Linked DNA regions of Homo sapiens: region 2 is linked to region 1. Evidence: fine-mapped expression QTL. Tissue or cell type: regulatory T cells. Region 1 holds a variant in brackets; the other region holds the start of a gene. All regions are shown on one strand. Distances are between the middles of the regions.

Region 1 (4,391 bases):
TCTGTTCCATTGTCAGGCTGCAATTTTTCCAAACTTTAATGTTCTGTCACCTCTTGAATGCTTTGCCGCTTAGCAGTTTCTTCCACCAGATACCGTAAGTCATCTCTCACAAGTTCAAAGTTCCACAGATCTCTAGGGCAGGGGCAAAATGCCGCCAGTCTCTTTGCTAAAACATAACAAGAGTCACCTTTGCTTCAAGTTACCAACAAGTTTCTCGTCTCCATCTGAGACCACCTCAGCCTGGACTTTATTGTCCATATCACTACCAGCATTTTGGTCAGAGCTATCCAAGGAGTCTCTAGGAAGTTCCAGACTTTCCCACATCTTCCTGTCTTTTGAGCCCTCCAAGTCTCTAGGACGTTCCAAACTTTCCCACATTCTCCTGTCTTCTTCCGAGTCCTCCAAACTGTTCCAACCCTTGCCTGTTCCCCAGTTCCAAAGTTGCTTCCACATTTTCAGGTATCTTTACGGCAGAGCACCCCGCTACCCAGTACCAATTTACTATATTAGTCCATTCTTGCGCTGTGAATAAATACATACCTGAGACTGGATAATTTATAAAGGAAAGAGGTTTAATTGACATACAGTTTAGCATGGCTGGGAAGGCCTCAGGAAACTTAATCATGACGGAAGGAAAAAGCAAACATGTCCTTCACATGGTGGCAGCAAGGAGAAGTGCAGAGCGAAGAGTGGCAAAAGCCACTTATGAAACCATCAGATCTCGTGAGAACTCACTATCATGAGAACAGCATGGAGGGAAATGCCCCCATGATTAAATTACCTCTCACCGGGTCCCTCCCACAACATGTGGGGATTATGGGAACTACAATTTAAGATGAGATTTGGGTGGGGGCACAGCCAAACCGTATCAGGGTCAAAATAAGTTCCTAAGTTTCTGGTTTCCCTTGCCACAATCCCAGATGTCAACTTCCCCTCTCCAGTTGACATTATCTTCAATTATGTCTCCCCCATGCTAGGTTTGAAGCAGCTGTAATATTTTAGTTATTTATAATTTTCCATAGAATAATAAATAACAATTTTAAAGATTTATCTTTTTGTCAGTGTATATTTTACATGAGACAAAAGCTATTCAAGTGGTGAGTAGCCATTTGAAATTACATTGTGTAAAATCTGTGTCCCTAATGATTCGTGGTGTTGAGCATATTTGTATGTGCTTATTGGCCATTTGTATATATCCTGGAGAAATGTCCATTCAAGTTCTTTGCCCATTTATTATTTATTTATTTTTATTTTCACTTTTTTTTGGAAAGAGCTATGATGCCCAGGCTGGATTTGAACGCCTGGGCTCAAGATCCTTCTGCCTTAGGTTCCTGAAGCTGGGATTACAGGTGTGTTCCAGCATGCCCAGCCAATTTTGCCCATTTTCTAATCAATGTGTTTTTTGCTGGTTTATTACAATAACTTATTATTATTATTATTTTTTGAGACAGGGTCTTGCTGCATTACCCAGGCTGGAGTGCAGTGGTGCCATCTCGGCTCACTGCAATCTCCGCCTTCTGAGTTCAAGCCATCCTCCTGCCTCAGCCTCCTGTGTAGCTGAGACTAGAGGGCATGCCACCATGCTCAGCTAATATTTGTATTTTTTGTAGAGACAGGGTTTTGCCATGTTGTCCAGGCTGATCTTGAACTCTTGAGCTCAAGCTGTGTGCCCACCTCAGCCTCCCAAAATGCTGGGATTATAGGCGTGAGCCACCATGTCCAACAATTTATTATTATTAATTGTGGCTATAAAAACAATTAAAAATCTACCATCTTAAGCATTTTTGTGTACAGTTTAGTAGTGTTAACTATACTCACCTTGTTGTGCAACCAAACTCCAGCAATTGTTCCCATTCTCTCAAATTTATTTTTTCTTTCTTCAAGGTGGTTAATTTTATCTTCAAGTTAGCTGATTCTTATTTTGCTTGCTTGAATTTGCCATTGAACACCTATAGAGAAATTTTCATTTTAGTTGTGCTTTGCATCTTCCAGATCCGTACTTCCTGGGTAGTCTTTTAAAAAATTTTATATATATATATATATATATATATATATATATATATATATATATATGTATTTTTTCCCCCCCGAGACTGAGTCTTGCCCTGTCGCCCAGAGCTGGAGTGCAATGGCATGATCTCAGCTCACTGCAACCTCCGCCTCCTGATTTCAAGCAATTCTCCTGCCTCAGCCTCCCAGGTAGCTGGGATTACAGGCGCCTGCCACCATGCCCGGCTAATGTTTGTGTATTTTTAGTAGAGACGGGGTTTCACCATGTTGACCAGGCTGGCCTCTAACTCCTGACCTTGTGATCCGCCCACCTTGGCCTCCCAAAGTGCTGAGACTGC[A/C]GGCGTGAGCCACCGCGCCTGTAATTTTTTGTTGATATTATTGCATGCATCCTTTTCTTAGTTTTCTTTATTTCTTTCTCCATGGTTGTCTTTACTACTTTGAGCATAGTTAAGGCGGTTGCTTAAAGTCTTCGTCCAGTGAGCGCAATAACTGGAGATTCTCAAAGATGGTTTATCTCAATTTTTTCCCATTGATGAGCCATATTTTTCTGTCTTCTTTATGATTTTGTTTTTGTTGAAAAGTGGGATTTGAATTTTTTTTTTTTTTTTTTTTTTGAGACGGAGTCTTGCTTTGTTGCCCAGGCTGGAGTGCAGTGGCACAATCTCAGCTCACTGCAACCTCCGCCTCCCGGGTTCAAGCAATTCTTTTGAATTCAAGTCTTTTGAATTCTTCTGAGCCCAGAAAAGGTCTTTTCTGGAAATGCGTTCTTTCCTGGACATGAAGGGGGCATTCTCAATTCCCCAGCATACCTGGGTTTTTCTGAGTATCCTAATTTCTGAAAGAAATTTTTCTCCTCAGCTTTTCTTCCCAGGCTTTAGATGGTCTATCATATGTCTCAGCCATAATCTGTTGGCTCAGGTAGCTTCAGGGTTTTTGTTTACTTTATGACATTTCAAGCAGTTGCTGCCCTTTTTTTTCCTCAAAAAATAAAAATAAAACAGTCAGATGTGGTAGTGTGCACCTGCAGTCCCAGTTACTATGGAGGCTGAGGTGGGAGGATCATCTGAGCCTAGGGAGGTCGAGGTTGCAATAAGTCGTGATTACGCCACTGCACTCCAGCCTGGGTGACCGAGTAAGACCCTGTCTAAAAACAACAACAAAACCTTGTGTAACTGCTGCTAATTAGAGTATATATTCAGGGCAACTTGAATCTGTACTCCTGGTTTGCAGTCCTCAGCTCTGGCCCCAATAGACTGTCCATTTGTATTGATTTTGCCTAAGTTTCTTCCTTTTAGATCAACAAACTTATGGAGCGCCTTTCTGTTTCATAGATGGGATGCTTCTTGATTCGTGACTCGCTAATAATAGCCAATTAGATCACTGAACTCTTTGTTGAAATATTTTCTTTCTTTTTTGAGACTGAGTCTTGCTCTGTTGGCCAGGCTGGAGTGCAGTGGCGTGATTTCAGCTCACTGCAACCTCCACCTCCTGGGTTCAAGCGATTCTCCTGCCTCAGCCTCTGGAGTAGCTGGGACTTCAAGCATGTGCCACCACACCTGACTAATTTTTGTATTTTTAGTAGAGACGGGGTTTTACCATGTTGGCCAGGCTGGTCTTCAACTCCTGACCTCAAGTGATCTGTCCGCCATGGCCTCCCAAAGTGCTGGGATTACAGGTGTGAGCTACTGTGCCCGACCCCAAATTCTTGACCTTCTTGCCAACACTTGTTCTTTGGAGTGGTTGATTTTTATTGTGAGTCATAGGAGTTTTTTATATGTTCTTGATACTAACACCTTGCCAGATATATGATTTGCTGATACTTTTTACAATTCCCTGGTTGCCTTTTCCCAGTGTTGATAGTGTCTTCTGACACAGAATTATTTATTTAGAGACAAGGTCTTGCTCTGTTGCCTAGGCTGGAGTGCAGTGATGATGTGATCCGAGCTCACCCCAGTCTCAACCTCCTGGGCTCAAGGAATCCTCTTCCCCCAGCTGCCTGGCCTACACAAGTTTTTAATTTTGATGAAATAAAATTTGTCTTTTTTTTCTTTTGTGAACCATGTTCTGGTGTTTTATCCAAGAAATCAATGCCAGACCCAATAGAAACTTTTGCTGTGTGTTTTTGTTTAAAAAGGAAAATTAGAACAGAGTTAAAAGATCCAGTTGGCTTTTATTTGCAATTCATGAATTGGGGTACCATCCCATTCTATAAAATAGAATAAGAGCTCCCGCTGGGCGTGACAGAAGGGTGGGTTTTGTAAGGAACAAGAGAAACAGAACAACAACAAAGCAGACTGGTTAACATCAGGTTACTTTTATTGAAAGGGTAAAGCAGAGGGGACGTCCTTATTATGCCAGCTGAGATTGACTGGGCCCTTTCC
Region 2 (4,348 bases), 33 kb before region 1:
TGTTTCCCCTTCCTGCCCTGCTGCAGCGCCACAGGTTGGAGGAAAAGCCTGCCTGTGAGCAGGGTCCCGGCAGGGCCCACCCACCCAACAGTGGAGATCGGGCCTCAGAGCTGGGCAGTCATGGGAGTTCAGGGCCTGGCTCGCCTCGGCAGCCTGGTCTTAAAGAGGGACTTGCCCGAGGCCTCGATGTAAGTGACAGTCATCTCTTTGGAGCTGATCTCCACATAGGCAAAGCCACCCAGTGAGTCTTCAGTCCCATAGTGGAAGCGCAGATAGCCGTTGGGGACCTTGCGCTGGTGCCGCTTTGAGGGGTCCATGAAATTCCCAGCCCCACTCAGCACGTAGCCCACGCCATTCTCATCTTGCAGGTACTGAGGATGGAGGACAAGGGGTCAGTGGAGACCCAGCTTTGAGCAGAGCCCTGCCTAAGGTCCAGGGCTCGATCTGGCCCTAACCACAGAGTCACCTTGAGGTATGTAACCCCTCCTGGCTTCAATTTCCTGACTTTTAGGAGTGTATTAATCCTATTTCATAGGTAGAGCACTTAGTAAGAAATTGGTGGCCAGGTGTGGTGGCTCATGCCTGTAATCCCAGCACTTTGGGAGGCTGAGGGGGTGGATTGCTTGAGCCCAGGAATTTGAGACCAGCCTGGGCAACATAGTGAGACCTTGCCTCTACAAAAAAAATGCGCAAGGGCCAGGTGCAGTGGCTCATGCCTATAATCCCAGCACTTTGGGAGGCCGAGGCGGGCAGATCACTTGAGGTCAGAAGTTCGAGATCAGCCTGGCCAACATGGTGAAACCCCGTCTCTACTAAAATATAAAAATTAGCAAGGTTTGGTGGCCCATGCTTGTAATCCCAGCTACTTGGGAGGCTGAGACAGGAGAATTGCTTGAACCCAGGAGGCGGAGGTTGCAGTGAGTTGAGATCGTGCCACTGCACTCCCTCTCAAAAAAAAAAAAAAAAGCAAAAATTAGCTGCATGTGGTGGCCCATGCCTGTAGTGTCAGCTACTCTGGAGGCTGAAGTGGGAGGTTCACCTGAGCCCGGGAGATTGAAGCTGCAGTAAGCCCCGATTGCACCACTGCACTCCAGCCTGGGTGAAAAACAATGAAACCTTGTCTCCAAAAAAAAAAAAAAAAAAGAGCTTAAAAAAGAAAGAAAGAAAGAAATTGGCAATTCGAAGATATTATTCTGGCTTTGGAGTGTTTTCCTGGTTAGACAGCAAGATTTGAGGGACAGTCTAGACATTCTGAAGGCCACAGGAGACCCTCAAACAGCAGGAGGACCCCAGCCATGTGGACATCAGCTGGGATGGGGACCCCCCTCACCCAGCTCCCACCCCACCCACAGGGCCCTCACCTGCAGATTGTGATCGTGGCCGCACAGGTAGGCAGTGACCCCGTATGTGGCCAGCAGTGGCCGTAGCTGCTTGACCAGGCAGTGGGTAGGCCCGTGCTCGGCTATGGACCACACGGGGTAGTGGCCAGCCACCAGCACGTAGTCCTCCCTGGCCGCCGCCAGCTGTTTCTTGAGCCAGGACAGCTGTGTGCGGGCCAGCTTCACGTCTCGGGGCCTCTCAGGCTGCTGGCTGAGGAAGTCATCTGAGTTGCCACATAGTGTCACTGTGTCCAGCATAAAAATGGCCACAGACACATTGGTCTGTGGGATCTTGAAGTGCAGGCGGTAGAAAGGGCTGGGGAAGTTCCTGTGGAGGGGATAGAGGTCGTGGGTGCACATCTTGGGCGCAGAAGTCCCAGGGTCAGCTCAAGCCACAGGGCCCCTGTGTCCCTGCTATGTGAGGATCTCGGAAGGCAGGGCTGAGGGTGGCTCACCAGCGCTTGGAGATCTTAGAGTATGCAATCTGGGCAGAGACATTGCCAAGGTGGTCATGGTTTCCGGCTAGCACGTACCAGGGCACTTTGCGAAGGGAGCGGTCAGAGAATACGTCCTCAAAGGTCTCCTGTAGCAAACAGATAGGGCAGGCCTCTTCCCTGGGGTCAGTGGCTATGCCGATCCTCCCACCAAGTCAGGATAAGGGAGACACTGAATGCTCCCGGCGCCCAAAGGTGCCCCATCACCTTCCCTCTGCCCTCACCAAAGGAAGGTCACTAGGTAAGGCGGCTTCTCCCCACTGCCCGCCCCCACCTCCTGCCCCACTCTGTTGGGCACAGACCTGGAACCTCTTGTCATTGATGTCTTGCACACCAGTGAAGTAAAAATTGTCCCCTAGAGACAGGATGAAGTCTGCACCCAGGATCTGCACAGTCCGAGCGATCTCCTTGGCATTGGCCATTTCCCGGGCCGTGTGGAATGGGGCATTGGGGACCCCTCCCCAGTCACCCACGGCTACAAAGCGCAGGGCAGGGGTGGCACCATCAGCCAGGGAGGGTAGCAACAAGGCTTGCAGGATGAGCAGCGCCGTCCACATGTCCATCTGGGAGAAGAGAGACAAGCATAGGTGGCCCGGGCTGTGACAAGGGCAGGGAGGCCTTGAGACCCCCGCCTGCCCTGAGATAGAGGGAGACTGCTTGCTGCAGGCTGCCCCTGCGGGAACCCCTTGGTGCCCTAATTCTCAGGACACACAAGCTGCACAAGGCTGCACAAGCTGGCTTAGGGAAGGGGGGCGCGGTCTGTGAGAGGGCGAGCTGTACCAAGATGGCCCTGCAGGCCCATTTCACCCTCCTTCCACCTAGCCTGCCCAGCACTCACCCAGGGGGAGACACAGGCCAGTCACCGGAGGCTCTGAGAGGCTGGTGGGCTCTAGAGTAGAACTGCCGGTCCCTGAGCCTTTATTCCCTGAGGAGGAAGTGGATCATTAGTGAGGATGATGCAGTTTCTCCGAGGGCTGTCCCGGGAGCCCTCCCCTTGGGTCATGTGAGCCCTGGACTTCCCTGGAGCAGGACACGGGATTGGGGTGGGGGTGGGAGGATCTGGGCACACGTGTGCAGCAGCCTCGGCCCACACAGCCTCCGGGTGGACCTGCAGGGGCCTGTTTGTGCTGTAGGCTTGACACGTCCAGGTATCTCTGTGTGTCTGTGTATCTCAGTGTGAGTGTGTGTGTGTGTGCACACTTGAGAGGCTGTGGCTGTGATTACCCAAGACACATCTCCTGCACCTTCTTTCTCTGAGTAAGGGCTTACCTGTGTGTGTCTGGGTGTGTCTTGCTTCCTGCGTGCAGCTGAGCATGCCTACCTGGGCCTCGGCTCTGTACCTGATGGTGTTGCTGCAGACATGTATGCTGAGCCTGCGAGGCCTGTGTGGCTTGTCTGCGATGCACGCCTGTGTTCTCACGTGGCACTGGGTGGGAATCCCTATGGATGGAGTTTTGTGTGTGTCCATGTGTGTGTGCCTGGGTTGCATCTCTAGGATGGGTTGCGTGTCTGGTGTGGGAGCTGTGTTTGACAACATCTGGGTGGGGGACTCCGCGTGTGTCCCCGTCCTCCCCCTGCCCTCTCTCCATCCCACACATAAACACCAACGGGCTTCCCTTTTCCAGGAAGTCCTGCCCACACCCTCCCCTCCCCCCAGACTCCCATTCCTGCAGGAGGAACCAGGCAGGAGGCAGCTAGCTGGTGATAGCGCGCGTGACCACAGACCTCTGACCCTCATAGTCTCAGCAGCTGTCTGCAGGCCCTCCACGGGACCGCAGCCTGGGAGGGCAGGAGGCCCTGCACCTGCGGCCGGTCTGACCTGCTCCTCACCTCCCTGCCTGCCTCCTCCGTGCTGGGCGCCGCCGCGACACGTCCCGCGGACATTCAGGAGTCCCTTCAGTCCCTGCGAGCGCGGACCCGGGAGAGAGCTCTCATTCAACGCTGAGGCCACTGGCTCACAGATCTCCCCGGGTCACCCTGCGAAGTGCTTGGTCCCCCCCATTCCCAGCCCTGCAGCAGCAACAAACGGGAAGGAAGTGGGTGACGAGGACAGGCAGAGACCCCTCCCACGGGGCCGCCCGCATCTCACCTGCCGTCGCGGGGCGGGCGTTGCGGCCGGTGCCCAGCTGCAGATCCGCAGGCGATCGCACTCCTGGCGGCCCCAGCTTTAAGCAGGCAGCGGCCGATCCGCCCTGCTCGAGGGCTCAGGGCTGACCCAGGTGAGCCCCGGCGGGGAGGGCGGGCGCCTCGGCCTCCCCGCCCCGGAACCCTGCACCGCCCAGAGCCGCCACGCCTCCCGGCTGTAGGCTCCGCATCTGTAAAATGGGCCGATGAACCCCAAGGGTCGGCTCAGACCCACGGACTGCAGCTGCAGCTGGGCTAGAAGGGGTGGCCAGGGGAGCCGATTTCATCCTTTTCCTTCCTCCACGCCAACCAGGAGCCTCCATCTGCCTGGGACCCTTTGGGGGCACCCAT

Which allele goes with the higher level. Alleles are on the strand shown, and positions count from the first base shown. SD is a standard deviation of normalised expression in the study named.
With allele A in place of C in region 1, the expression in regulatory T cells of the gene that starts at base 2,764 in region 2 is lower (large effect, 1.4 SD a copy in Bossini-Castillo 2019).

Evidence for each region. PIP is the estimated chance that this variant, and not a neighbour inherited with it, causes the effect. A credible set is the group of variants that fine-mapping cannot tell apart.
Region 2: it holds the start of ACP5, and the variant in region 1 is the best candidate, but not a certain one, in a credible set for the expression of ACP5 in regulatory T cells (Bossini-Castillo 2019, PIP 0.86).

The regions. Positions count from the first base shown.
Region 1 is chr19:11,607,446-11,611,836 of GRCh38, forward strand. All of the region lies in intron 1 of ZNF627 (zinc finger protein 627), which reads left to right. Among named protein-coding and RNA genes, the nearest start is that of ZNF627, 12 kb to the left of the region's middle. The variant A/C (reference allele first, on the strand shown) is at 2,349.
Region 2 is chr19:11,574,882-11,579,229 of GRCh38, forward strand. ACP5 (acid phosphatase 5, tartrate resistant) reads right to left here and starts at 2,764. Exons shown (of 5, transcript NM_001611.5): 1 at 2,712-2,764; 2 at 2,176-2,436; 3 at 1,835-1,962; 4 at 1,362-1,707; 5 at 1-371. The coding sequence starts at 2,436. The coding sequence ends at 129. LOC124904638 (a long non-coding RNA gene) reads left to right here and starts at 368. Exons shown (of 2, transcript XR_007067140.1): 1 at 368-472. RefSeq lists enhancers at 2,250-2,862, 2,863-3,474, 2,944-3,083 and a silencer at 4,034-4,223.